Homo sapiens: one gene and its partners. The protein of the gene in region 1 interacts with the protein of each later gene in a pairwise test. Each region holds a gene or a part of one and is shown in the gene's direction. Other genes may lie near its edges.

Region 1 (4,224 bases):
GCAGGCCCAGCTACTTCCGAGGCTGAGGCGGGAGAATCACTTGAATCCGGGGGCAGACATTGCAGTGAGCTGAGATCGTACCACTGCACTCCAGCCTGGGTAACAGAGTGAGACCCTATCTCAAAAAAATAATAATAATAATTTAAGTATTGAAATATGGAGTGATTTAAACGTAGATATGGATAAATTACTTTTGTAGGCTCAATTTAAAAAATCTAACATATGAGGTATTTTGTTGTTTTTTGTTGTTGTTGTTGGAGACAGTCTTGCTCTGTCACCCAGGCTGGAGTTCAGTGGCACAATCTTGGCTCACTGCAACCTCCACCTCTTGGGTTCAAGCAATTCTCCTGCCTCAGTCTCCCACGTAGCTGGGATTACAAGTGCTCCCCACCATGCCCAGCTAGCTCTCTGGGATCACTTTTATAAGGGCACCAATCCCAACAGTGAGGGTTCTACCCTTATAACCTAATCACCCCAAAGGCCCCAACTTCCTGCTACTCACATTGGTGATTAGGTTTCAATATACAAATTTTGAGGGGAGAAAAAAAAATAAGCACACAAGACGTATTAGCCGTTGTTGTTTTCAACTAACATAGCATCCTTATCTGTTTCATCCCTTTCATTTTCTGTGCCTTTTATGGCCATCGGACTGAATTTGTTTGTTATTTGTCTGTGAATAGACTATGAGGTCCATGAGGACGGGGATGTTTTTGTATTCATGGTTGTATTTCCAGCACTTAGAACGGTGCCTGACACAAATTAAGTGCCCAGCTATTTCTTAAATGAATGACTGAACCCCATTTTGCTCTGATTAAACAAAGCCACTAGGTGGTTAATAGCATACCCAAGGCCATTCAGATGAAAGTGATAGAGCCAGATAGGATTCAAACCTAGGAAGTCTAAAGCCTATACTCTACACAAGTGAAGCTCCAAACACTTTCTTTTAGGTACCCTATACAGTCACCTACCTAGTCTAGGTCACTTGGTAGTTTATCCATGCATCCAGTGGTTTCCCATCCCTATTCCCTTACTCTTTTTGCATTTCACATGAACTCCATCTACCTTCACCTCTCCAGACCTTAGTGCAACTCATTGAAGAAACCTGAGGTTATCTCCCATTCATTAATTCACCCACTCAGTCAACAAGTATTTTTTTAAGTGCCACCTGTATACCATATCCAGACTTACATTTTGTTCAGCCACCTCTTGTATTATTTGTTTTCAACTTGCATTGTCCTTGGTTGTCAATGGCTTTGCTTCTTTTTAGGTGTAAGCTTTATATTATAGAAATGTTGGTTGATTCATGACAGGCTCTCTAGTGTAACAAATCCAAATTACAGTTCTAGATGCACACAGTTTGGGTTTTGAATTCCAGCCTTACTAAATTCCTTAATGTTTTTATTCCGTGATTTCCTATAAAATGATAATAGTATTTATTCCGTGGAATTATCGGGAGGATTAATCAATGTATGTAAGCTCATAGATGCTTGGTGTATACTAATAATAAACTTATTATTTACATATTATTTTATTTGTAGCTATACTTACTCAGCACAATATTATTATTTTTCTACTTCCATGGTGCTTAGTGTAGTTTTTGTTGTGGTTTTCTAGTTTGACTGAAAATGTAGAAGATTGCAATAGTCGTGTTCCTGAGTTTGACACATAATCATCATTGATCCCTGAAAGGCTGCTGTTTTTCTAATGTATTTATTCTTTTCATTCCTATAGCTCATTCCATTTCTTAATGCAAACATTTTAATGTTTTGTTTACATGTATTCTTGAGAATGTGTATCTTTTAACTTTACAGAAATGTAAATTATATGCTTTGTTTTAGTTCTCATCTCTTTTTTCCTACTCAGCACTGTTTTTGAAGTTATCTATTACTTTGTATACATCTAGTCCTTTGCTTCCAACTCTTATGTAATTCTTTGTGTGCGTCTACCAGTCTTTCTACTCCTACATTGCTAGGCATCCAGATTGCCTCCAGCTCCTTGCAACACATGCAGCATTAGACATTTCTCTTCTGGACCTCTGTGAGCATGTCTTTGACATATATAAATGTCTCCTTCATTTAACTAAGTGTACTGCCAGGTTATCTCCAAAATAGCTGCCCTGCTGTATATTAGTAGAGTTTTTTTCTCTATCATACGAGCACTCAGGATTCTCTGCTTGAAGACTCTTTAGGAATAAGATGTTTGCTCTCAAATATATGAAGAAATACCTATTGTAGAGTTAGCCTTCCATAATTTATTGAACCTAAAGCACCTCTGTTGTAAGATGCATCATTACATACATTGCTAAGGTTAAACACTTCCAGTTGAATTGTTAAGTGCCTTAGATTGTAAAATGCATTCCAATTTTAGAGATGTTAAAATGTGAGAAAGTGTGAGTCTGGAGTTGATGAAAGAATATTTAAAAAATATTTTTATTAAAGAATATGTATATGTATGTTAATGTGTGTATGTGTGTATATATATGTTTACTTCTTACATGCCCTGGGAATAACACCTTAGACAGGCAAACAGCACTACACACATGATATATATTTTTTCACTTATTTGTTTATGTATAAATTGGTATGTGACATATTTCTTTATATGTTTTAAAATAACACCTTTATTTGTATGTGTTATTATATGTTTAGTTATGTCTTTATTTTTGTCTTTATGTGTGAAGCACTCCAGATGAACAAAGTGCTACACTGTTTCTTGTGAGCAGTGATTCTAAAGCTAGTACACCCCACTGAATTTTGTCCCTCTGGTCGATTGTGAGGACTCAGAAGTATATTGGACTCCTGGTGTTAGAGCTGTTTGTTTTCTTGGTGTTTCAATGAGGTCCAGCTCTAGAAGAAAGCAAAGAAGGTTCATGGGGTATTTTGAAATGAACAGGGTCCCCAAAAGCCTGATGGATCTGGTAACACCACGCGGTATTTGATTCAAATCTATCTGGTAGCATCCTCTCTGAATTTTTAAGTGAAGAAGAAAGGGGCTCAATTTGGTAGTGCTGCCATATACTTTTTTTTTCTTTTAATTTTTTTGAGACAGAGTCTCACTCTGTTGCCCAGGCTGGAGTGCAGTGGCATGATCTCAGCTCACTACAACCTTCACTTCCTGTGTTCAAGCGATTCTTGTGCCTCAGCCTCCCGAGTAGCTGGGACTGTAGGCCCGTGCCACAACGCCCAGCTAAGTTTTGTATTTTTGGTAGAGATGGGGGTTTCACTATGTTGGCCAGGCTGGTCTCGAACTCCTGGCCTCAAGCAATCCACCCATTTCAGCCTCCCAAAGTGCAGGTGTGAAGCCACTGCACCCAGCCATGCCATACACTTTTTAGCCTGGGCAGGAAACTTAAAGCCTAGGTCTTGAAAGAAAGGTATTTTTAATTGGTCATTCATTCTCCAAAGCTTATTGAGCATCGTATGCTAACGTTATGAAAAATAAATTTTCCTCACTAGACTATAGCTCCATGATAATGGTTGGAAGTCACAGGAAAGGTAGATTTCTGCTCAGTGTAAGCCTGTTATTGCTATTAACATTGAAATGGCCTGATCTTAAGTTTCTGAGCTTCCTGTCATTGGAAGCATTTAAGTAGTCCTGAATAGTCAACTGTTAATAAATATTATAGGTATTTCTATTTTGGAAAGAGATTGAACCAACTGCCCAGGGTTTCAAGGATTAAGTTCAGCAGTTAATACCAGAGACTTGAAAAATGGTGGTTTCTGGTAACAGAGACCTGGAAACCATGGCTTAAGCAAGAGAAGGATTTTGTTTCTTTGGTATAACAAAAATCCAAAAATAGGTATTTTAGTAGACCTCAAGTGATTACTCCTTGATCGCATTAGGAACCCAGGCTCCTTTTAACCTTAGCTATTTTCAACATATGCTTTTCACCTGAAATCATAAGATAGCTTATCTGCCTCCAGTATTGTGTACATGTAAAAGGTGGTAATAAGGAGAAGGATAGTGGAAAAGGGGGCATGTGCCAAATGAGTCAGTCCTCTTTAAAGAGTTCTTCCAGAAGTTCAAGCCAGTGGCCTCAATTGACTAACATTGTATAGCATGACCACCCCTACCTACAAGGGATGGGAAGCTAACTGGACATGTTGTTACTAATAAAAACCAGAGTATGTCAGAAAGAAGGGAAGGTTTGATGTTGGGAGGCAAGTAAGTTTTTTCTTCTACCCATCAAAATCTTTTTTTAGTTAGAAAATATTTGAATCTAAC
Region 2 (4,224 bases), on another chromosome or scaffold:
AAGCAACAACCCCTACCCCACATTATACAAAACATTCTGAAATGAAGGACCAATGGAAGGAATGGCAGGAACCAACATGGGAGACATTGGAAAATAAAATTAGTAAGGAAAACTGTATACTAGTTCTAATACATTGGAAAATCTAAGTGAAGTAAATGGCTAAAAAGTACAAAAAAATACAAGAAATAGAAAATCTAAGCAAACCAGTAAGTGAGGAAGACATAAGAAGAATCTGTCAGCTAAGAGGAGAAAGTTACTGAAGGAAGGAAGGAATGAGCAGTTAAATCGAAGACTGGATGAGATCAGTCAGAGAAGTCTCTTTGGATTTGTATCTTAGACATTATTTATGACCCCAAGGAGGTTTTTTCAGTGAAACAGAATGGATGTCCACATGCTGTGGGGCTGCAAAGAGAATTGGGGGTAAGGAAGTGGACACGGATTAGATTAAACAGTTTAATGTGGTTCTGCTGTAAATGATACCCAGGGCAGAGTCTTGAGCATACTTAAATTATAATTGTCAAGAGCCAGTAGAGAGGGGAAGGATGAATATGCGAAGGAGAAAACAGCATTGATGGTGAGAAGTCCCTGAGGAATTGAGGTCTGGAGTAATTGGCAAGGGATTTGCCCTAGACAGACAGAGGAGGGTTCTCTGTTTCACTGTGAAATGAAAGGACCAATGAAGATCCAGCTCATGACTGGAGTTGGGAGGAATTTGGAGGAGTTCCTGACTGGTTGCTTCCATAAAATGAGATGGTTTAGTCATCTGCTGAAAATGAGGGGAGAATGAAAGGATGGGAAATTCGTGAGAATGGAGACAGTGGAATGGTCAGTGTAGACAATAGGAAAGAAAATGAAATGGGTAAATACCCCAGGACCAATAGGCAATGTTGAGGCCCCAGTGGTTTTTGCCAGCATTGTTTTGCGCATGCTATAGGCATGGAGAACGCCAAGTGGACTTAAACTTACTGGTCTCAGGTCTCATTCTCAATTATTGATAGACCCAGAGAGCTTTTATTTACATAGGACACATTTATTGATAATTACCGTATTAGAAATTAAAGCCAGGAAATTACAAAATGTATATTCCATGTAGAAATGCAATAATAAACCCATAGTATGCTAACAGATATTTTTATGAAAAGACTATATTTGCGAAAACAAACACTTCAGTGAGAAAAGTGACATTGTTTTAGAAACCTCTGGCATAGTAGTTGGATTCTATTTCTCTCTCCAGTCTGTTGCTGTATGTTGTTTTCAAGTACACGAAGAAAATTCATCCACAGATAAGTAGTTAGAAAAAGGAGTATCTTAATAGCCTTTTCAGATAATTGTGGATATTCTTCTTGATACTACACCAAAACTAGACAATTGGTTTCTTAAAGATCAGTTGCAATGTGGATTCTGAAATCATTTCAATGAACTTTTCATACATTAAAGCCTGTTCTATTTTGCTCTTTGAATGGATCTTTTTACCTAGATGTGATTTTGTAACATCTTGATTTTGTAATGTCATGGTTCAGTGAATTATGCAGATCTTCTTAATGTTGACATTTTTGATTAGATAATATTAAAAAATCTCATTAATATCACCACTGATTTCATTGGAAAAGGCTTCAAGTATTGGGAAGCTATTAAGCTCCTGGTGGTGGGTACAAGTTTTCCACTTTTCCAGTTCTCACTTGACAGCTGGAATTTTATCATCGGTGGTAAATACTATCATTGTTTTCTTTTAGCTTTAAGCTTGTTTTGTTCAGTTCTGAGAAAATGTCTACCAAACACCCAAATCTGACTAATCAAACAATTGCACAAGTGCTTTTCTTTGAGGAAACCATTCTACTTTAGTATGTAACAAAAGTGCTTTATACATTTTATTTTTTCATGCTGATTATTAAAAGGCTGTGTACTCAAAGGTTGAGATTTAGGAAAATTATGCTAATTATACTTCGTCAAGGACATTCTTAAGAGAAACTAGACTTTTTATTTTTTTGTAAGTGCATGTTGGTGAAGAATACAGTTTGAAGGCCTTGCCTTTATTTTTGCTGATGCCAGTAGTCCCCCTTCCCAAATCCTCCCCCCATGTTGCTTTTGGACTGTCAGTGCAAATCTGAGCACAATGAAAACGGGGCACATAATGTCTTAGTATATCATGAAAATAAATTTGACCTTGCAAAACCTCTGAAAGAGCCTCTGTGGACCACATTTTGAGATGTTCTAGGCTTGAGATTTTGTTAGGTGTGTTCAATGGAATTGAGACATGGTCATCAAAGATAACATAGTTAAAAAGATTGGACCATGGCCTCCGGCCTGGAGAGTGTTTTTTCCTTTCTTTCTACACAGCCCTTTCTGAGAGGATACCAATGTGTGTTTGCCAACTTATTTGAAATATGACAATTATATACTACCTAGTCAAAAACAATTTTAGATGCCGAAATAATATTTTGGGAGTGAAGAACTGTAGCTTGGAAGACTAGATCAGAACAAAGGGTTTAAGGACCAGAGTTCTAGTTGCTACTCATCATTCTTCCTGAGTTCTGGGAATGTCACCTAACCTAATTCTCAGCGTTCTCATCTCTAAAAAGGGGTTAATACTATTTGCCCCCACCGTACTCAGGGTAGTTTTGATGTTCAGATGATACCATCGGTTCCTTACCCCAGATAACATCTTCATCTTTATTTCCGTAAAACTGTGCTTGTTGTGTGGTAGATAAGTCTGGAAATGTTTATTGAATTAAGGAATGAACTTTTAGAAAAACCTTATTCTGAAAGTTTTAAACATAATACAAAAATAGATAAAATTTTATGATGAGCCCCTGTATATCCTTCCCCTGAAACATGCAGCTCTAGAAAATGACATGTTCCTTTAAAACCAAAATATGATCACACCCAACAAAATTAAAATTAGTTTGTTAATTTTATCAGATACTCTTCTCACATTCGTATATTTTCCAACTGAATTAAAATATGTACATACATTTGCTTTTACAGTTGGTTTTTCAAGTCAGGTCAACACGAAGTTCAATCCTTGCATTTGCTTATTATGAATCTTGGTTTCTTTTAATGAAGAACGTTGTCATTTTCTCAACTTGGCTGATTTTTTCCATGCCATTGACTTGCTGGAGAAACTGGGGCTAGTTTTGTAAAATGTCTTTGATTTGTGTAATTGCTTCCTGGCATATTGACACTTAGTTAATTCCTCTCTTCCCTACATTTAACAAGGATACTTCGTAGACGATGGCTGGGTAATTCCTGTAGTATAACATAGGTGGTACATAATCTTTTACTGATGTCAAGCTTGATCATTGGGTTCAAATGGTGGCAGGCTCATCTTTCCATTGTCACCATTGGCCTTTTTCATAAGGTTTTAGCATCCATTGATGATCATTGTCTGAGTGAATGAGCTTTGGAACTATGAGGTGCTAAATACTTGTGTGGAGGTAGTACACAGGTAATATTATATCATTACTGTTAATACAGTCGGGGACAGTGTCTTTATTTGAACAAAGCCATCTTTGGAATAATATCCAAGAGGCAGAGCTGCGATGGCAACAAGCCTCCAAATTACGGACTGTAGATGTAACAATAAGGATAATTTTATGTATAATGTGGAAAGGACTGACATCTTTTTAGCCACAGACAAGATTTAGAGCTTGTCTCTTTACATCAAATCATATCACAACAAATACCTTGTGAGAGGATCATTTGAACCCAGGGAGTCGAAGTTGTGGCCTTGATTGTGCCACTCCACTCCAGCCCGCGTGACAGAGAGATACCCTGTCTCCAAAACAAACAGAAAACCAGAAAAACGCACAAAAAACCCCAAATATCCTTAAATCATTTTTTAAATAAAAGAGTTCACCAAGACCACCCTATATGTAGATTATTTTAAGAACTGATTGATATAATAAGGTTCCAGGTAACAAGAAAGAACTTACACTCCTGGAGTTCCCTTGTTATGTGGGATATCAAATGTAGGCTATATATGTCATAATTTTGTTTCTGTTAGGAAAAAATAATTGAGGTATACCATTTTATGTGTTTCATAATGAATCCATTTGAAGAAATTATCATTGAACTCAGACATTAAGAAGTGAAAACATTTGGAAAATATTCTTGGTCTCCTCTTTGCTGATGGACTTGCCTACTGATTGATACTGCAAGAAAAATACTTGAACTTACCACATATCGGTGCCCATAGTCGTAGTGGAGGGTTGTTGATGTGCTTGG
Region 3 (4,224 bases), on another chromosome or scaffold:
GACAGGCCTTGATGGATCAGAAGAGGAAGAAAAGGTAAACGGGGGCCTGAGAGGAAGAGGGGAGGAGATACTTGAAGACCTCAAGTAGTTTAAGAGGGGACTCTGCCCCTCTGCTTCCACACCTGGAGTCTTATTTCTTGGGTACAATTCTAGCTTCCAGTCTTTTGTAATAGGATAGAAACATTCCCTTCTGATTGATGTGACATTCAGTACTTTCTGTAAACCAGTGGTTCTCAAATTTTGCTACACAGAACCTGGAGAGCTTTTTATAAAATCTTGATGTCCATACTGTATTCTATTCCTATTAAATCAGAATCCGTGGTCCAGGCACAGTGGCTCACACCTGTAATCCCAGCACTTTGGAGGCCAAGGCGGGAGGATCACTTGAGGTCAGGAGTTCAAGACCAGCCTGAGCAACATTGCACACCTCGTGTTTTGCAATGCCGAAATACAAAAAATTAGCTTGGCATGGTGGCACGTGCCTGTAGTCTCAGCTACTTGGGAGGCTGAGGTGGGAGGATTGATTGAGCCTTGGAGGCATAGGTTGCAGTGAGCCGAATTCATGCCACTGCACTCTAGCCTGGGCAATAGAGTGAGACCCTGCCTCAAAAAAAAAAAAAAAAGAATCTAAGGGTGGGACCTGGGTATCCATGTTTTTTTAAAACTCTTCAGGTAATTTCAGTCAGGTTTTGACAATGCTAACCAGAGCTTCTAAAACTTTAATGTGCATAGGAATCACCTAGGGGTTCTTGTTAAAACAGTTAAAGTTCAGATTCTGATTGAGGATGTCTGGGGGTGGTCTGAGATTCTGTGTTCTTTGTTTGTTTGTTTTGCAAGCTTCCAGGTGATGCAGATACTGCTGCTGATCTTTGCACCACACTTTGATTCATGAGGCTGTACACTGTGCTGTCCTTAATGTTTCAAACACACCCCTTACCATTACTAGTCAAATGAGGGCAGAGGTTCCCCCAGAGCCTTTCTGTAATAATATCATCAAAACCTTGCTGCTTTGATCTTTAGATCCCACAAAAGTTCACTCTGAAAATTCTTCCCATATGCTCTCTCCTCTTATCATGTACTCACTGGTAAGCTAGGTTTAGATTCTGGAGTGAGCAGTGAGGTGCAATCAAAGTAATAAGGAAGAAAGTAGCTAGCTTGTTTCTCTGCCCAACTCACCCTGGGGGTTGGAGGAGACTCTGGCTTCCTTTTCTGTTTTTAAAAATTGTTCTATGGCCTCCAGGAATAGATAATTATGTTCTCATTCTCAAAATTGTAACCACACTACCCCCTACCACCAGTTCCCTCTTAAACATGTGCCTGCTTGTCTCTAGGGTCAGAACATATCCTGGGATATGGCGGTAGTCCTGAAAGCAACTCAGGAGGCACCTGCTGCTTCAACCCTTGGCAGCTACTCATTACCAGGGACTCTGGCCAAGAGTGAGATACTGGAGACTCATGGGACCATGAACTTTCTAGGTATGGTTCAGTTCCCTGATTCTGAATCTGACCATTGGGGTTTCTCAAAATCTTTTCAGAGACTGGTGGGCATCCAGTCTCCTAGGTTGACCAACAGAGTACTGAGGTATTGAAAGTGTCCAGGAAAGCTGGAAAGAGGAATGCTGAAATGCCTGTGCATTTGTCATGGGAAGTGGCTTATTTTGCACACAGGCTCAAGACACTAGACAAACATAGGTGTTGTGCTGAAACCTGATCAACACCAATATGGTACCAGGTTCAAGAGGCTGAAGAAGAGACCCAGAGCCAGCAAACAACATAGAATTTTACTAGGTGTTTATGTACAGGGTAGACAGTCTAGAGGCAGTGGACTGGGCACGGGAGAACCACATGGCCCAGTGGCACAGGCTGGACAGGAGAGCTGCAACTGCTTGCAAAAGGCATGCGGTTTATGTCGCATTTTCACTTAACACCCTCTCCCTAATGACCTCCACCTGGCAGCCTTAATTTAACCCAAAACAAGGGGCCTCAATCCCCTTTAAGGCCCGCATTCCACTGAAAGGGGTGGGGAATGGATAAGGAATGGATCTCCAGGTTGGCCACTTCTGGATTCCTTTGCTTGGAACTCCAAACTATATTCAGGTGTGTCTGCCATACAGGATCATTCTCAGGGTATGCTTAAGTTGTTGCCATCAGGTGTATTTACCATACAATAGGTGAATTCCAAACTCACTTTTTAGTGATATTTATTGTTCAATGAGTTTCATCTCTGTGCACACATGTAGGCACATGTCCTTTTTATACGCTTTGTAGTTAGCATAGGTTGGTGAGCCTGCAAGAGATGCTAGCCGAGGTAGGAACAGTCAACTTTTGTGGTGATTTTGAGCAAATGCCCTGGAGATGTTCTGTTTTCATAGATCTTTGTGCAAATTATAGAGGATTTTGAGCAGCTGTGTTAACCATAATGATGTTCAAAACTAGGTCTTCGTGAAGGGTACTGATGGCTTATCAACTTGTTCTCTCTAAGCTAGGACTAGAGAAAGGGTAGTATGTTCTAAAGATCTCACTGGCAGTGGCAGAAGCTTGCCTGTGGAGGAGTGACATATAAGTGAGGGTCAAGAATGCAGTAGCCATGAGTCCTGTGTTTCAAAGCACTTACTGGCTGATTGCCAAGCCCTATTCTTTTTATGAGTCTGCCAGATATTGAATATTTTGAACCCACTCTCCTCCCTAACCAGTTCCTCAGGCATCTGGGGACCAAGTCACTTTCTTAAACCAGTGCTATGGGGAAGACAAGGATCTCCACCTAGATTTTCTTGTCTCATATTTAATTATTCCCAAACTCTTAGCAGCTTCTGTTCCCCACTTTCTGCTTTGTGTTCCATTCTCTCTGGTGCATTCGCGTGCATGTCACTTATTTTCTGTCTCTGAGCTTTATCAGCCATTCATAGTCTTAACCCCAACAGCTGCACCTCATCAGGAATGGGCTCCCTTTTCCTACTTTGCCTCTTACCTCAAGACCATGTTCATACCCAAGACTTAGTATTTTGTGCTGCCAGCTATTTCCATGGCGATGGCAGGAACACTGCCAACACTATTTCCATGGCGATGTCAGCAGGCGATGGTGGGAACACTGAGCTCTATGTGTGAGAGATATCTGAGTGGGGTTGCTGCCCTGCCTGTAATAACTCTGTGACCTTGAGTAAGTCCCTTCTCTCTCTGGACCTCCATTTCCTGTTCTACAAATTGGGTGTGTTCATTAAGTACAGGATTTGTTGGCGGCCTCCTTCCTATGTGTCAGGCAGCGTGATAGGTGCTGGAGATACAGAAATGAATAAGACACAACCTTGCTCTTTTTTTAGCTGAAGGAGAACAGTTTCATCTTCATGATGAAATTGTATAATATACATGAAAGTGCTTTGGAAATTGTGATGTGTTACTGGGTTTTTAATGTCTGAGCAAGTTTTAACTGTAGTTTTCATATTTTAATTAATGTTGAATTTATTAAAGTTTATTCATTTAAAAACCAATTTTTAAGCCATTAAGCATAACTTTTTACTTCATCCATACATCTAGAAATATTTGTATAAAAGTGAGAACATTTGTATTTTTTCTTTAACTTATGTTCAGTTAAGCTTCAAATTTTACAGATTAAATTTTTTAAACATTTTGGCCGGGCGCAGTGGCTCAAGCCTGTAATCCTAGCACTTTGGGAGGCGGAGGCGGGTGAATCACCTGATATCAGGAGTTCGAGACCAGCCTGGCCAACATGGTGAAACCCTGTCTCTACTAAAAATTCAAAAATTAGCCAGGCATGGTGGTGCGTGCCTATAGTCCCAGCTACTTGGGAAGCTGAAGCAGGAGAATCGCTTGAACCCGGGAGACAGAGGTTGCAGTGAGCCAAGATTGCACCACTGCACTCCAGCCTGGGCAATAGAGCAAGACTCTGTCTAAAAAAATAAATTAATTAAAAATTTTAAACATTTAATTCTACCTGCTTATCAAATTTCTTTATATAAAACATAATTACAAATTTGATATCTTTAGTTCTTTAAAACATTCCAAACACCTAACTGGGCAGACTTACAAATCTTGTAAATAAAATCTTGATAAACACAGCTGTTATAAATCTAATGAATTGGACTTATAAATTTAGTAAATCAAATTACCCTTCTTATCTCAGAATACAGTCACCAGCTAAGGTGGCAGGCTTATGTAGCATTTCAGCTATCTTTAAAAAAAAAAAAAGAGTGAAAGAAGAGTATTGAT
Region 4 (4,224 bases), on another chromosome or scaffold:
AAAAAAAAAAGATTGAGAAGATAGGGGCTGTCAGGGAGGGAAGTGAGATCAAACCTGGCCGAAACCTTCACCGGCTGAGTGTGAATGAGATGGTGGGTGGAGGAGCAGCCACATGTTCTCCAGGAGGAGCAGCAGGGGAATGGTGGCTGGGGACCTACGGGCAAAGGATCAGGGCTCTGCGAGGTGCTGAGCTGCCTGTAGGAGCAGGGCCAGACGGAATGATCGCCCCTGCGATGATATTACTGCAGGAGCAGAGCGGCCGTGATCCGATGCCTCCCTCCCCAGGGACATGAGGTCTCAGAGGGCACATTCAGCTCAGTGGCACTTTGGAGTCGGAAATGGAAAAGCCCCAGGGCTGAACGACAGCTGGTTGGGTAGCGACTAATAACTAAGAGGCAGGTGTGGAGCTGGGGCTCGCCGAGCCCAGCTGCCGTCTCGGCTTGCTGCTCAGATCCTTGATAGCAAAAACCACCAGGCACGTGGGGAACGCACTCCCTCCAGCCAGGGCCAGATAGAAGCTGCTGGAGGGGGTGTTGGCAGATCCAGAGTCTGGTCCATTCCTGCTGGAAATACCAAGCTCACGTTTTGCACCTACGTAGTTTTAGTCTGAAGTCAGCTAGAGTCACAGGCCAGGGAGCTTGACTGGTATGGGTGGAGGAGACAGGAATCTGGGGACCCATCTTTTCTTCTGTTTCATGGTGGTGAGATTAGCACTGAGCCAGTTTTTAGATTGAAGCCCCTCTGTTTTACTGCTTGTAAAATGGGACTGACGCCTCCCAGATCTGGAGAGGACTTTTCGGAGTGTGTCTAGTCCTGTACACCTGCCCTGTGAACCTCAGGGTCCTCACCCGCCTTCTTTGAACTTCTCAAACTAGAACCATGGTCAGTAAAAGCGACGGCTGCAATTGTTCTAAATCCATGAGCGTTATCCCACTTTACCGTCCTTTTTCCAGGGACATTGAACCTCCCTCTTCTCAGCCCTCCCCTGTGTTCCCCTGACCCACAGACAGTGCGCGGAGTCGGGGCTGACTTCGTGTGAGCTGTCCATAAGTGGTAGGGCTGTGGCTGTGACCTCGTAGAGGGCTGGAGAGATGACGCGTCCGTTCTCCACTGTGGCCCATCGAAGCTATGCTGGCAAAGAATGGAAATTCCCGCTAGTCTTCAGGGGCAGAGCGGTGACAATTCGAAGCCGAAGAGGGCTGTTCCTGGCCTTCTTTCCCCATATCCCTCGCTCAGGCTGTTGACCCGGCCATGCCACCCCTGTGTGCTGGACCGTGTGGGGCAGTGTCCCCAGGCCCGCCCTCCGCCCTGTGTCTCTGTGTTGTGGACAGAAGCCTCTTAGAGCGCTCCGTGCGGTAGGACCTCAGCCTCGGCCCTCCTAACCTCTTTCCTTTCTCTCTCTCTTTCCCCTCTCTCCCTCCTCCCCCCTTGCCTCTGCCCTTCAGGTCCGAGCCTCCGTACTGGGTGCAATGAAAGCTCCACGCAGGCCTTACCATGGAAGGCTGTGACTCGCCCGTCGTCTCGGGGAAGGACAATGGGTGCGGTATCCCTCAGCACCAGCAATGGACTGAACTCAACAGCACCCACCTCCCTGACAAACCCAGTAGCATGGAGCAGTCCACAGGCGAGAGCCACGGGCCCTTGGACAGCCTGAGGGCCCCCTTCAATGAGCGCCTCGCGGAGAGCACCGCGTCGGCCGGGCCCCCCTCCGAGCCCGCCAGCAAGGAGGTCACCTGCAACGAATGTTCGGCCTCCTTTGCCAGCCTCCAGACCTACATGGAGCACCACTGCCCCAGCGCGCGCCCCCCGCCACCCCTGAGAGAGGAGAGCGCCAGCGACACCGGTGAGGAGGGGGACGAGGAGAGTGACGTGGAGAACCTGGCCGGGGAGATCGTCTACCAGCCGGACGGCTCCGCGTACATTGTGGAGAGCCTGAGCCAGCTGACCCAGGGCGGGGGCGCCTGTGGGAGTGGCAGTGGCAGTGGGCCTCTCCCCTCGCTTTTCCTGAACTCTCTCCCTGGCGCGGGGGGCAAGCAAGGGGACCCTTCGTGTGCTGCACCCGTGTACCCGCAGATCATCAACACTTTCCACATAGCCTCATCCTTCGGGAAATGGTTTGAGGGCCCAGACCAGGCTTTCCCGAATACCTCAGCCCTGGCGGGGCTCAGCCCCGTCCTGCACAGCTTCCGCGTGTTTGACGTGCGACACAAAAGCAACAAGGATTACCTGAACAGCGACGGTTCTGCCAAAAGCTCCTGCGTATCCAAAGATGTTCCCAACAATGTGGACCTGTCCAAATTCGATGGCTTTGTGCTCTATGGCAAGAGGAAGCCCATCCTGATGTGTTTCTTGTGCAAACTCTCCTTTGGGTACGTCCGTTCGTTTGTGACCCACGCGGTGCATGACCATCGAATGACCCTGAGCGAAGACGAGCGGAAAATTCTTAGCAATAAGAACATCTCCGCTATCATCCAAGGGATCGGCAAAGACAAGGAACCCCTTGTAAGTTTTCTGGAACCAAAAAACAAAAACTTTCAACACCCTTTAGTTTCCACAGCTAACCTCATAGGCCCCGGACACAGTTTTTATGGTAAATTTAGTGGCATTCGAATGGAAGGGGAGGAAGCTCTCCCAGCGGGCTCCGCCGCTGGCCCCGAGCAGCCCCAGGCTGGTCTCTTGACCCCCAGCACCCTGTTGAACCTTGGCGGGCTCACCAGCTCGGTACTGAAGACCCCCATTACCTCAGTCCCCCTGGGGCCTCTGGCTTCCAGTCCTACCAAATCCTCAGAGGGCAAGGACTCTGGGGCGGCAGAAGGAGAGAAGCAGGAAGTGGGCGACGGGGATTGCTTCTCTGAGAAGGTAGAGCCAGCCGAAGAGGAGGCGGAGGAGGAAGAGGAGGAGGAAGAGGCGGAGGAGGAGGAGGAAGAAGAGGAGGAGGAAGAAGAGGAGGAGGAAGACGAGGGTTGCAAAGGACTCTTTCCAAGCGAGTTGGATGAGGAACTGGAGGACAGGCCCCATGAGGAGCCTGGGGCCGCAGCAGGTAGTAGCAGCAAAAAGGACCTTGCTCTCTCAAACCAAAGCATTTCTAACTCCCCCTTAATGCCTAACGTGCTCCAGACCCTGTCGAGGGGCACAGCTTCTACTAGTTCTAATTCTGCTTCTTCCTTTGTTGTCTTTGATGGTGCGAACAGGAGGAATCGTTTAAGCTTTAACAGTGAGGGCGTCAGGGCCAATGTGGCAGAGGGCGGCAGGAGGCTGGACTTCGCTGACGAAAGTGCCAATAAAGACAATGCCACAGCACCAGAACCAAATGAAAGCACAGAGGGTGACGATGGGGGCTTCGTTCCCCATCACCAGCACGCTGGCTCCCTCTGCGAGCTTGGGGTTGGGGAGTGCCCCTCGGGGAGTGGCGTGGAGTGCCCCAAATGCGACACGGTCCTGGGCTCCTCCCGCTCGCTGGGCGGCCACATGACCATGATGCATTCTCGTAACTCGTGTAAGACACTCAAGTGCCCCAAGTGCAACTGGCACTATAAGTACCAGCAGACCCTGGAGGCACACATGAAGGAGAAGCACCCGGAGCCGGGGGGCTCCTGTGTCTACTGCAAAAGCGGGCAGCCCCACCCCCGGCTGGCACGAGGCGAGAGCTACACGTGTGGTTACAAGCCTTTCCGCTGCGAGGTGTGTAACTACTCCACAACTACCAAAGGCAACCTCAGTATTCATATGCAGTCTGACAAGCATCTCAACAACATGCAGAACCTGCAGAATGGAGGGGGGGAGCAGGTCTTCAGCCACACTGCCGGGGCGGCGGCGGCGGCGGTGGCTGCGGCGGCGGCGGCAGCCAATATCAGTAGCTCCTGCGGGGCCCCCTCGCCGACCAAACCAAAAACCAAACCCACCTGGCGGTGCGAGGTGTGTGATTATGAGACCAACGTGGCCAGGAACCTCCGCATTCACATGACCAGTGAGAAGCACATGCATAACATGATGTTACTGCAACAGAACATGACCCAGATCCAACACAACCGCCACCTGGGCCTCGGCAGCCTGCCCTCACCCGCCGAGGCCGAGCTCTACCAATACTACCTGGCCCAGAACATGAACCTGCCCAACCTGAAGATGGACAGTGCTGCCTCGGACGCCCAGTTCATGATGAGCGGATTCCAGCTGGATCCCGCCGGGCCCATGGCCGCCATGACGCCTGCTCTAGGTGAGGATGAC
Region 5 (4,020 bases), on another chromosome or scaffold:
CCCAGAGAGAGCCACTCTGAACAGTGGTGAACATCCATATTGTTTTCTTCAGGTATATTAACATTCTTTTTAACAAAAAGATTGTGCTTACATATACTGTTTTGTAATGTGCTTTTGTCTCCTAGCAATATGTGTTGGAGATTTTTCCATTTCATATAGATAAGTCTGTCTCATTTTTAATGGCAACATGGATTTCCGTGGTATTATTATCTCAGAAGTTATTTAATTCATTTCCTCCAGTCTTATTCTAGGTACCTCCCAAAGACAAACTTAGTGACATGAGCTCAAGTAGGCTACTAGGAGGTGACCTCAGGAAGCTTGAATAAGGGAATGGCAAATAAGACAGGAAAAGGAGGAAAACAAATCAAGGATGTTTGGCGAGTGGATATCTGCAGTATAGGGGGTCTTCAAAATCACCCTCAGGTCCAATGATTCACCACAGAACTTGGAAAAACTGTTATTCTCATGGTTACAGTTTATTACAGAAAAAGCATACAGACCAAAATCAGCAAAGTGAAAGATTGCTGCTATGGTCTGAATGTTTTGTTCCCCCAAAATTCTTATGTTGAATCCTAATCCCCATGTGGGAGGTGATTAGACCATGAAGGCTCTGTCCTCATGAATGGGGTTGGTGCCCTTATAACAGAAACCCAAGAGAACTGTCTTGCTGCTTCTATTGCATGAGAAGGCACCACCTATGAAGGAGAGCAAGCCCTCACCAGACACTGAATCTGCTGGTACCTTGATCTGGGACTTCCTAGCTTCTGGAACCATTAGGAAATAAATTCCTGTTGTTTATAAGCCTCCCTGTTTATGGTAATTTGTTATAGCAGCCCAGCAGACTAAGAAAGGGGAAAGAGTCCTCTTTGTCATAGGAAAAAGTCCAAGAGAGACCAGATGCAAGCTTCCAGTTGTTCTCCTCAACTGGAGTTATACGAGCAGTGCCTAATTCTCCTTGCAAGGATGTGTGACAACACACTTAGGGTATTGCCACCCAAGAAGACTCACCTGAGCCTTGGTGTCCAGCATAGTTAGAGGACGTTGGTCATATAGTCATGGCTGACCATCTGGGTAGCTGAGCCTCCTTGCAGAGGTAGCTTGCAGAGGTCCAGCTAATGTTGAGTGGCCCAAGGTCCTCACCATAAATCACAGTTAGCACAGACAAGCTGGCATGGCTCAGGCAGGAAGCTGCAGGTGCTTGAGGAAGGACACTATCTATAGAAACCATGAGTAGCCTCCAAGGTGGGCTGAGGGGTAGGCAGGGCACCAACAGCCCCAGCTACACTCCCTCAGGGACAGTCTTGCCATTTCCCGTTTTTCATTCTTATAAACAATGCCCTGGTGCAGGGGTCAGCAAACTTTTCTATAAGGAGTCAGATAATCTTTTTTTTTTTTTTGTATTCCCTTTTGGCAATTTGTTTAATTGAGATAAAATTCACATAACTTAAAACTCACCCTTTTGGTGTATACGATTCAGTGCTTTTTAGTATATTTTCAAGATTGTGCAACCAACACCACTATCTAATTCCAGAACATTTTTATCACCCCAAAAAGGAGCCCTGTGCCAATTAGCTATCACACCCCATTCCCTCTTTCCTCTATCCTTGATAACCACTAATGGTAATTTCTGTCTCTAAAGATCTGCCTATTCTGGACATTTCATATAAATGGATCATAATATATGACCTTAAAAACTTGGTACATAGGCCAGCCATGGTGACTTATGCCTGTAATCCCAGCATTTTGGAAGGCCGAGGTGGGCAGATCACCTGAGGTCAGGAGTTCAAGACCAGCCTGCCCAATGTGGCAAAACCCTGTCTCTACTAAAAATACAAAAATTAGCCAGGCATGGTGGTGGGCACCTGTACCCAGCTACTTGGGAGTCTGAGGCAGGAGAATCACTTGAGCCCGGGAGGCAGAGGTTGCAGTGAGCCGAGATCACGCCACTGCATCCCAGCCTGGGTGACAACAGTGAAATTACAACTCAAAAAAAAAAAAAAAAAAGAAAAGAAAAAAAAAACTTGGACATAAATGTTTACAGTAGCATTATCCATAATAATAGTCAAAATGTGGAAACAACCCAAATGTCCATCATCTGATGAACAGATAAGCAAAACATGGCATATCCATACAATGGAACGTTAGCTGGCCATAAAAAGTAGCACTACAACATGGATGAACCAGACAGATAGCAGATATGTGAGGCTTTGAGAGCCACATGGCCTCCAAATTATTCAGCTGCTGTGGTCTGAATAGTTGTCCCCCACCCTGCCAAATTTGTATGTTGAATTCCTAACCCACAAAGTGATGGCATTAGGAGGCGGGACCTTTGGGAGATGATTAGGTCATGAAGGTTGGAGCCCTCATAATTGGGATTAGTGCCCTTATAGAAGATGCCCCAGAGAACTAGCCTGTCCCTTCCACCATGTGGGGACTCAGTGAGAAGATACCACCTATGAGGAAGCAGCTTCTCACCAGACACCGAATTTGCCAGTGGCTTGATCTTGAACTTCCCAGCCTCCAGAACTGTGAGCAATAAGTTTTTGTTGTTTATAAGCCACCCAGTTTATGGCATTTTGTTACAGCGGCCTGAATGGACTAAGACATCAACTCTGCCCTTTTTGCACAAAAGCAGCATTATGTAAACAAATGGGTTTGACTGTGTTCCAATAAAACTTTATTTACAAAAACAGGTAGTAGTCCATATTTGACTGGGAGGCTCTAGTTTGCCCATTCCTGCTATATAAAATATCCTTGTATGTGTATTTTTGTCCATTTGTGCAGAAAATTCTATGGGATCAATTCCTAGAAGTGAAATTGCTGAGTCATGAGTTATGACATATTTATTTTGAACAGATGCTGTGAACCACCCCAAAATTTGAACCAACTTGCTTTTCCACCAGCGGCACATGAGAGTACGTGAGACTGAGATTTCCCCCACCTTTTTTTTTTTTTGAGACAAGCAAGGTCACTTTGCTACCCAGGCTAGAGCCAGTGCAGTGGCACCATCACTGCAGCCTTGACTTCCCTGGACTCAGGTGATCCTCCCACCTCAGCCTCCTGAGTAGCTGGGACTACAGGCACACACCACTATGTCTGGCTGATTTTTTGTATTTTTTAGTAAAGGCAGGGTTTTTCCATGTTGCCCAGACTAGTCTCAGACTCCTGGGCTCAAGCGATCCACCTGCCTCAGCCTCCCAAAGTGCTGGGATTACAGATGCGAGCCACCGTGCCCAGTCAGAATTTCCTTTCTTAAAGCCCTTTCACAAAGAAGTAGAACCCATACCCATTTAGAAGGGAAGTTTCTGCATTGTCATTCTTGAGCTTTGGAGAGGAAGAAGAAGATAGAACATTTTGCCCCCAAAGAAGAAAACTAAATGGGGCCTGAAGTGGTCTCATAATAGTATCTTATTTTAGATTTGAGGCTCACAGGGAAGGGGACTCTGGTAACTTGTCCTCATTTGGTGAGATCAAACCTTACACTGCCCACTAAGTGTCATTCCTAAAAGCCTTGAGTGTTACCTGTTCAATTATTTTTTCAAATGCAGAGAGCTCCTTAGCAATTTCATTTATTAAGCAAAGCTTCCATTCCTATTATTTCTCTTTGTAAGTAATTTGCATGTAAATGAGGTCCACCTATGCATACTGAGCATGTTACCAAATGTACAAAAAATATACATGGTCCAATTTTTCTCCACAGAGCTGACAGGTACCCATCCCTCTTGCTGAAGATGACATAGTATTTCACGTAGCCTAGTTTTCCCTAAGTCTTTTTGGCTTTTGGACGATGGATGGAGTTTTTGTTTTTATTTTTCCATTTTTCTTTTTTCTCCCTCATTTTCATCATTTGGAATTCGTGGTGTGAAACCCACAGGGGAGAACAGAGGCTCATTAGCATTCAAGCTCTGTTTTTGGCAGCATATTTTAGTTGCTTTATATGATATTCAGCATCCCTCCTGGGATCTAGCCTGCCTTTGCTCGGCTCACGCTGGGTGAATCTGTGATATTTCCCATTCTGTA
Region 6 (4,224 bases), on another chromosome or scaffold:
CGGGGTTTCACCAGGTTGACCAGGATGGCCTCGATCTCTTGACCTCATGGCTGCCTGCCTTGGCCTCCCAAAGTGCTAGGATTATAGGCGTGAGCCACGGCACCCAGCAGTTTGTTGTTGTTTTTTGTTTTGTTTTTAAAGGTAGTTCTGAGCAATCCATTACTATGAGGGAAGGGCATGGTGTTTTCTTAGGAAGGCTTCCCTGTGAAATACTAGAATTATTACTAATTCTTAATTGACTATCACAAAGAAAGATTTTGGAAGCTGAACTAAACATGCTCTCATCCCTGTACAAGGGATGCTTTGACATGCACTTGCTATGCTTAAAAATGGAGACAGTGAGACAGAGAAGCAGAGGGAGAGACAAAGGGGCAGAGAGAGATAGAGGGAGAAAGAGAGAGGGAAAGACAGAGAGAGAGAGGTTTGTTAGGTTTAAAGGGACAGTGACACCTCCTATTTGGTGTGTTCACGGAATACTGCTTCTGCTTTATCATTAACCCTTGTACTTAAGTTTCACATTACTTTTACTCTTTTTAAGGCCTGGTCAAAAAAACAGTTCACCTACCAATTTTTCCAAACTCATTAGCAATGGTTATAAGGATGAGTGGTTGCAGCAGCAGCAGCGAGCTGACTCAGACAAGAGGACCCCGAAGACCTCCAGGGCATCAGTGTTATCTCAGTCCCCACGAGACCTGGAAGGTCCCCAGGATGCAGCCAGGCTCCAGGATGCAGAGGCTTCTGAAGGTCCTGAGGACACCCCAGGTGAGGCACAAGCAGCCATCTGCATTTATTGGAGGCTTGGTTAATTGTGATGCAGCAGCTGACGTTCTTATCACATGATGCGTCTCGTAATGAGAAATGAGTAACCCAAAAACCATGTGAAAACGCCCACAGAAGTACTAAGGTTACAGATAAGCAAGAGAGTAATACATGTTTTGCTCTTTCCTCTTTATTCAAATGAATAGCGGAAGTCATGACTTTTGGGGTTTCACATTTTCTTTTATTTGTCAAAAATTTTGATAGTCCATTTGATATAACAAACAAATAATATACCAAATAGTATCAACTTTTAATCTTCCAGATCCAAACAATGTTGACCCTAAAAGGACTTTTGCATAAGCAGCCGGTACTTTTTGAGATCACTTCTTAAAAAGCTTTGAAAATAAGTCAAAATTCAAACTTAAAATTACTCCATTATTGGCATGTCTTAAGCTTTGAATAATTTAGAACTTTCTCCACAATTAGATGTTCAAAGTACTATATTAGTTTTTATTTATTATAATATTTTATTTTATTTATTTATTTTTTGAGACAGAGTCTTACTCTGTTGTCCTGGCTGGAGTGAAGTGGCACAATCACAGATCACTGTAGCCTCAACCTCCTGGGCTCAAGCGATCCTCCCATCTAAGTCTCCCAAGTAGCTGGGACTATAGACATGCACCATTACACCCAGCTATTTTTTTATTTTTCATAAAGACAAGGCCTCACTATATTGCCCCGGCTGGTCTCAAACTCCTGGGCTCAAACAATTCTTTTGCCTCTGCCTTGCAAAGTACTGAGATTACAGGTGTGAGTCACTGTGCACAGCCATTCATTTTTATTTTTAATAGTACAGAAAGAATTCATCTTATTTTTTCAACACATCCATCTTAAAGCCTATTGACATTGTGTTCAGTATCCATAGCTCTATTAATTATTGACCATTTGCTTCTGGGAAACCTGTTTTTACTCTTGAGGCTTGAGCTCTTTGATTAAGAGGAAAGATGGCGTGTTATACCTCTTCAGACATTTGAAGTGTTTGGTGTGGTGTGGTTATTTGTAAGTGAGGTCACCGTTTGCCATTCTACACCCTGTTCCTTACTGTATTTGTTGAACAAGATCTGCCACTTATTGGCCAACTCTCTCCTTTATTATCCTGGAAGATGAGATGGTGACAAGTTCATACTCAGTGTTGTTAAAAAGCACCCTATTGGCTGAGCATGGTGGCTCACGCCTGTAATCCCAGCACTTCGGGAGGCCGAGGCAGGCAGATTACCTGAGGTCAGGAGTTCGAGACCAGCCTGACCAACATGGAGAAACCCCGTCTCTACTAAAAATACAAAATTATCTGGGAGTGGTGGCACATGCCTGTAATCCCAGCTACTCGGGAGGCTGAGGCAGGAGAATCACTTGAACCCAGGAGGCGGAGGTTGCGGTGAGCCGAGATCGTGCCACTGCACTCCAGCCTGGGCAACAAGAGGGAAACTCTCTCAAAAAAAAAAAAAAAAAAAAAGGTTTGTTGCCCTATTGAACTTTACAATGTCAAGAGTGTTTTATGACTTATTGTTGTTTTAAGTAATACAGAATTTTCATTAAATCTTTAAGTAATTATGACTTCTTTTAATACTTGATCTGTTTCATTAACCTGAACAACGAATGTACTTTTTATTACAGAGTCTTCTCAAAGTGAGTACTTATAAAGTAACCAGCACCAAAACACAAAAAGTCTTACACAAAGAAATTGATGGACATAGTCCTGCATTCTGAGACTACAGCCTCTAGGCAGCCTGGAATGTCCTTCTCCAAACTGCATGCATTCTGACTACAAAGCTTGTGCCATGTATGCTTTAAAAAAATCAGAGTTCCAGAAACTTAACTTAGGGAGAGCAAAAAGAGGATCGCTTACACAATTACAACAGGATGAAGATGATGATGATGATGATGATGATTATTATTATTATTATTATTTTTTTTGAGATGGAGTCTCGCTCTGTCGCCCAGGCTGGAGTGCAGTGGCGCGATCTCCGCTCACTGCAAGCTCCGCCTCCCGGGTTCACGCCATTCTCCCGCCTCAGCCTCCCGAGTAACTGGGACTACAGGCGCCCGCCACAACGCCCAGCTAATTTTTTGTATTTTTAGTAGAGGCGGGGTTTCACCGTGTTAGCCAGGATGGTCTCGATCTCCTGACCTCGTGATCCACCTGCCTCGGCCTCCGAAAGTGCTGAGATTACAGGCGTGAGCTACCGCGCCTGGCCTATTATTCTTTTATTCATGTTACACAAGCAAAAACATACTTTAGTTCATGGACACACATTGTATTACTCGTCATGTGAGAGTCATACTGGAAAACATAAGTAAAAAGCCATCGGAGACTCCAATTTATTTTTTAGTTTACTTTTTATTTTATTTTAAATCGACAGATAATAATTGTATACAACTATGGGGTGCAATGCGATGTTTTGATATATGTATACATTGTGGCATCATTAAATCAAGGTAACTAAAATATCCATTACCTCAAATACTTACCCTTTTTTTGTGGTGATCACACTTAAAATCTGTTCTTTTAATGATTTTGAAATATACAATATATTATTATTAACTTTATTCACCTTGCTGTGAAATAGATAATTAAAACTTAACTCCTCCTGTCTAAGGGAAACTTGGCACCCTTTGACCAACTTCTCCTCTTACCCCATCAACTACTGCCCCATCCCCAGCACCTGGTAACACATTCTATTCTACTTCTATGAGTTCAATTTTTTTAGATTCCATATATGGCTGCAATTATACAGTATCTGTCTTTCTGTACCTGGCTTATTTTACTTAGACTAATGTACTCCAGGTTCATCCATGTTGTCACAAATGACAGAATTTACTTCTTTTTTAAAGGCTGAATAGTGTTCCATCATGTATATACCACATTTTTTTTCCTTATTCATCTGTTCATGGCCAGTGAGGTTGATTCCATAGCTTGGCTATTGTGAATAATGCTGCAGAAAATTTGGGAGCGCAGATGTAGCTTTGTGACATACTGATTCCATTTCCTTTGATATATGCCCAGCAGTGGGATTGCTATATCATACGAGAATTCGATTTTTAGTTTTTTAAGGAAACTCCATAATGTTTTCCATTATGGCTATTCTAATTTACATTTCACCTTCAGTATGTAAGGGATCCCTTTTCTCCACATTATCATCAACACTTGCTTTTCATCTTTTTGATAATAGCCATTTTGACAGGTGTGAGATGATATCTCATTGTGGTTTTCATTTGCATTTCCCTGATGATAGTGATTTTGAGCTTTTTTGTATATACCTGTTGGCCATTTGCATGTCTTCTTTTGAGAAATGTCTATGTAAGTCCTTTGCCCATTTTTAAATTGGATTATTTGTTTTTTTGCTACTGAGTTGAGTTCCTTATACATTTTGGATATTAACCCCTTATCAGATGTATGGTTTCCAG
Region 7 (4,224 bases), on another chromosome or scaffold:
CTAGTTTATTTGTGAAGAGGTGTTTATAGTATTCTCTGATGGTAGTTTGTATTTCTGTGGGATCAGTGATGATACCCCTCTTATCATTTTTTATTGTGTCTATTTGATTCTTCTCTCTTTTCTTCCTTATTAGTCTGGCTAGCAGTATATCTATTTTGCAGATCTTTTTTAAAAAAACCAGCTCCTGGATTCATTGATTTTTTGAAGTGTTGTTAATGTCTCTATCTCCTTCAGTTCTACTCTGATCTTAGTTATTTCATGCCTTCTGCTAGCTTTTGAATTTGTTTGCTGTTGCTTCTCTAGTTCTTTTAATTTTGATGTTAGGGTGTCAATTTTAGATCTTTCCTGCTTTGTCTTATGGGTATTTAATGCTATAAATTTATCTCTAAACACTGCTTTAAATGTGTCCCACAGATTCTGGTAAGTTGTCTTCGTTCTCATTGGTTTCAAAGAACATCTTTATTTCTGCCTTCATTTCGTTATTTACCCAGTAGTCATTCAGGAGCAGGTTGTTCAGTTTCTATGTATTTGTGTGCTTTTGAGTGAGTTTCTTAAACCTGAGTTCTAATTTGATTGCTCTGTGATCTGAGAGACTGTTTGTTATTATTTCCATACTTTTGCATTTGCTGAAGAGTGTTTTACTTCCAATTATGTGGTCAATTTTAGAATAAGTGCTATCTGGTGCCGAGAAGAATGTATATTCTGTTGATTTGGGGTGGAGAGTTTTGTAGAGGTCTATTAGGTCCACTTGGTCTAGACCTGAGTTCAAGTCCTGAATATCCTTGTTCATTTTCTGTCTCATTGATCTGTCTAATATTGACAGTGGGGTGTTAAAGTCTCTCACTATTATTGTGTGGGAGTATAAGTCTCTTTGTAGGTCTCTAAGAATTTGCTTTATGAATCTGGGTGCTTCTGTATTGGGTGCATATATATTTAGGATGGTTAGTTCTTGCTGCATTGTTCCCTTTACCATTATGTAATGCCCTTCTTTGCCTCTTTTGATCTTTGTTGGTTTAAAGTCTGTTTTATCAGAGATTAGGATTGCAACCCCTGCTTTTTTTTGCTTTCCATTTGCTTGGTAAATATTCTCCCATCCCTTTATTTTGAGCCTATGTGTGTCTTTGCACGTGAGATCAGTTTCCTGAATATAGCACACTGATGGGTCTTGACTCTTTATCCAGTTTGCCAGTCTGTGTCTTTTAATTGGGGCATTTAGTCCGTTTACATTTAAGGTTAATATTGTTATGTGTGTACTTGATCCTGTCATTATGATGCTAGCTGATTGTTTTGCCCATTAGTTAATGCAGTTCCTTCATAGTGTCAATGGCCTTTACATTTTGGTTTGTTTTTGCAGTGGCTGGTACCGGTTTTTCCTTTTCATGTTTAGTGCGTCTTTCAGGAGCTCTTGTAAGGCAGGTCTGGTGATGGCAAAATCCCTCAGCATTTGCTTGTCTGTAAAGGATTTTATTTCTCCTTTGCTTATGAAGCTTAGTTTGGCTGGATATGAAATTCTGGGTTAAAAATTCTTTTCTTTAATGAACGTTGAATATTGGCCCTCACTCTCTTCTGGCTTGTAGGTTTTCTGCAGACAGATTCACTCACTGTTAGTATGATGAGCTTCCCTTTGTGGTTAACCCAACCTTTCTCTTTGGCTGCCCTTGGCATTTTTTCTTTCATTTCAACCTTGGTGAATCTGACGATTATGTGTCTTGGGGTTGCTCTTCTTGAAGAGCATCTTTGTGGAGTTCTCTGTATTTCCTGAATTTGGATCTTGGCCTGTCTTGCTTGGTTGGGGAATATCTCCTGGATAATAACCTGAAGAGTGTTTTCCAGCTTGGTTCCATTCTCCCCATCACTTTCAAGTACATTTTCAGTCAAATGTAGATTTGGTCTTTTAACATAATCCCATATTTCTTGGAGGCTTTGTTTGTTCCTTTTTATTCTTTTTTCTCTAATCTTGTCTTCTCTCTTTATTTCATTAAGTTAATCTTCAATCACTGATATCCTTTCTTCTGCTTGATTGATTTGGCTATTGATACTTGTGTATTCCTCACGAAGTTCTTGTGCTGTGTTCAGCCCCATCAGGTCATTTATGTTCTTCTCTACATTGGTTATTCTAGTTAGCAATTCGACTAACCTTTTTTCAAGGTTCTTAGCTTCCTTGCAGTGGGTTAGAACATACTCCTTTAGCTTGGAGTTGTTTGTTATTACCATCGTTCTGAAGCCTACTTCTGTCAGTTCATCAAACTCATTCTCCATCCAGTTTTGTTCCCTTGCTGGCTATGAGTTGTGATCCTTTGGAGGAGGAAAGGTGTTCTGGTTTTTGGAATTTTCAGCCTTTTTGTGCTGGTTTTTCCCCATCTTTGTGGAATTATCTACCTTTGGTCTTTGATGTTGGTGACCTTTGGATGGGGTCTTTGAGTGGACATGCTAATCCTTTCTGTTTGTTTCTTTTCCTTTTAACAGTCAGGCCCCTCTGCTGTCAGCCTGCTGGAGTTTACTGAAAGTCCACTCCCAACCCTGTTTGCCTGGGTATCACCAGTGGAGGCTGCAGAGCAGCAAAGATTGCTGCCTGTTCTTTCCTCTGGAAGCTTTAACCCAGAGGGGCACCTGCCAGATGCCAGCCAGAGCGCTCCTGTATGAGGTGTCTGTTGGCCCCAGTTGGGAGGTGTCTCCCAGTCAGTATACACAGGAGTCAGGGATCCACTTGAGAAGGTAGACTGACCCTTAGCAGAGCTCGAATGCTGGGCTGGGAGGTTTGCTGCTCTCTTCAGAGCCATCAGGCTGGGACGTTTAAGTCTGCTATAAGCCCCTGACTGGGGCTGCTGCCTTTTTTACAGAGATGCCCTGTCCAAAGAGGAGCAATCTGCCAGTCTGGCCACAGCAGCCTTGCTGAGCTGCAGTGTGCTCCACCCAATTTGAACTTCCTAGCAGCTTTGTTTACACTGTGGCTGTAAAACCGCCTACTCAAGCCTCAGCAATGGTGGACACCCCTCCCCGACCAAGCTTGACCATCCCAGATAGATCTCAGATTTCTGCTGTGCTGGCAGTGAGAATTTCAAGCCAGTGGATCTTAGTTTCCTGGGCTCCGTGGGGATGGGACCCGCTGAGCCAGACCTCTTGGCTGCCTGGGTTCATTGCCCCCTTTCCAGGGAAGTGAACGGTTCTGTTTTGCTGGTGTTCCAGGCGCCACTGGGATATGGGAGAAAAAAAAAAAAGCCCCTGCAGCTAGTTTGATGTCTGCCCAATTGGCTGCCCAGTTTTGTGCTTGAAACCCAGGGCCCTGGTGAGGTAGTCACTGGAGGGAATCTCCTGGTTTGCAGGTTGCAAAGACCATGGGACAAGCGCAGCATCTGTGCCAGAGTTCCTCAGGCTCAGACCCTCACGGCTTCCCTTGGGTAGGGGGGAACATTCTCTGGCCCTTTGCACTTCCCAGGTGAGGTGATGCCCCACCATACATTGGCTTGCCCTCCATGGGCTACACCCTCTGTCCAACCAGTTCCAATGAGATGAACTGGGTTCCTCAGTTGGAAATGCAGAACTCACTTGCCTTCTGCGTTGATCTTGCTGGGGGCTGCAGACCAGTGCTGTTTCTATTCAGCCATCTTGAATCTACTCCCCCTTACGGACTTTAATGAGCATCTATTGTGACTCCTGCATGCTCCTTATCATACATTCTTTCTGGATCTGATGGATGCTTGATTTGGGAGGGACACAAAAATGACAAAAACATGTTATCTTCTCTGAATAGGTCTTAATATAGGAAGATCACGAGACCATGTCCTTTGCAGGAACATGGATGGAGCTGAAGGTCATTATCTTTAGCAAACTAACACAGGAACAGAAAACCAAATACCTTTCTCACTTATAAGTTGAAACTAAATGATGAGAACACATGGACACAAAGAGGGAACAGCAGACACTGGGGACCACCAGAGAGTGGATGGTGGGAGGAGGGAGAGGATCGGGAAAAATAACTAATTGGTACTAGGCTTAATACCCAGGTGATGAAAATCTGTCCAGAAATCCCCCATGACAAGGTTTTACCAATATAACAAACCTGCAGATGTACCCCTAAACTTAAAAAGAAAAATAAAATATAGGAAAGAGAAAGATTATTATGATTTAAACAGATTAGCTGAATGTGATACAGTCAACAAACCAATACATCTATAATATGATACAATATGATAGTCAATAAAAGAAGCAGAAAGGGCTAGAGTC

The links.
Region 2: the proteins of PIBF1 (region 1) and PRPF18 interact in a two-hybrid assay, tested with the Homo sapiens proteins (one large-scale study listed by BioGRID).
Region 3: the proteins of PIBF1 (region 1) and ZNF35 interact in a two-hybrid assay, tested with the Homo sapiens proteins (one large-scale study listed by BioGRID).
Region 4: the proteins of PIBF1 (region 1) and ZFHX3 interact in a two-hybrid assay, tested with the Homo sapiens proteins (one large-scale study listed by BioGRID).
Region 5: the proteins of PIBF1 (region 1) and SYT17 interact in a two-hybrid assay, tested with the Homo sapiens proteins (one large-scale study listed by BioGRID).
Region 6: the proteins of PIBF1 (region 1) and C7orf57 interact in a two-hybrid assay, tested with the Homo sapiens proteins (one large-scale study listed by BioGRID).
Region 7: the proteins of PIBF1 (region 1) and SPATA18 interact in a two-hybrid assay, tested with the Homo sapiens proteins (one large-scale study listed by BioGRID).

Annotation. Positions count from the first base shown.
Region 1 is NC_000013.11:72,784,636-72,788,859, forward strand, and holds part of PIBF1 (progesterone-induced-blocking factor 1), read left to right. Parts: intron 1-4,224.
Region 2 is NC_000010.11:13,593,073-13,597,296, forward strand, and holds part of PRPF18 (pre-mRNA-splicing factor 18), read left to right. Parts: intron 1-4,224.
Region 3 is NC_000003.12:44,651,226-44,655,449, forward strand, and holds part of ZNF35 (zinc finger protein 35), read left to right. Parts: coding exon 1-34; intron 35-1,331; coding exon 1,332-1,476; intron 1,477-4,224. UniProt on the Homo sapiens protein: May be involved in transcriptional regulation. Involved in cell differentiation and/or proliferation.
Region 4 is NC_000016.10:72,957,416-72,961,639, reverse strand, and holds part of ZFHX3 (zinc finger homeobox protein 3), read left to right. Parts: exon of another isoform or gene 1-1,445; 5' UTR 1,446-1,494; coding exon 1,495-4,213; intron 4,214-4,224.
Region 5 is NC_000016.10:19,261,655-19,265,674, forward strand, and holds part of SYT17 (synaptotagmin-17), read left to right. Parts: intron 1-4,020. UniProt on the Homo sapiens protein: Plays a role in dendrite formation by melanocytes.
Region 6 is NC_000007.14:48,052,162-48,056,385, forward strand, and holds part of C7orf57 (uncharacterized protein C7orf57), read left to right. Parts: intron 1-538; coding exon 539-762; intron 763-2,433; coding exon 2,434-2,445; intron 2,446-4,224.
Region 7 is NC_000004.12:52,089,055-52,093,278, forward strand, and holds part of SPATA18 (mitochondria-eating protein), read left to right. Parts: intron 1-4,224. UniProt on the Homo sapiens protein: Key regulator of mitochondrial quality that mediates the repairing or degradation of unhealthy mitochondria in response to mitochondrial damage.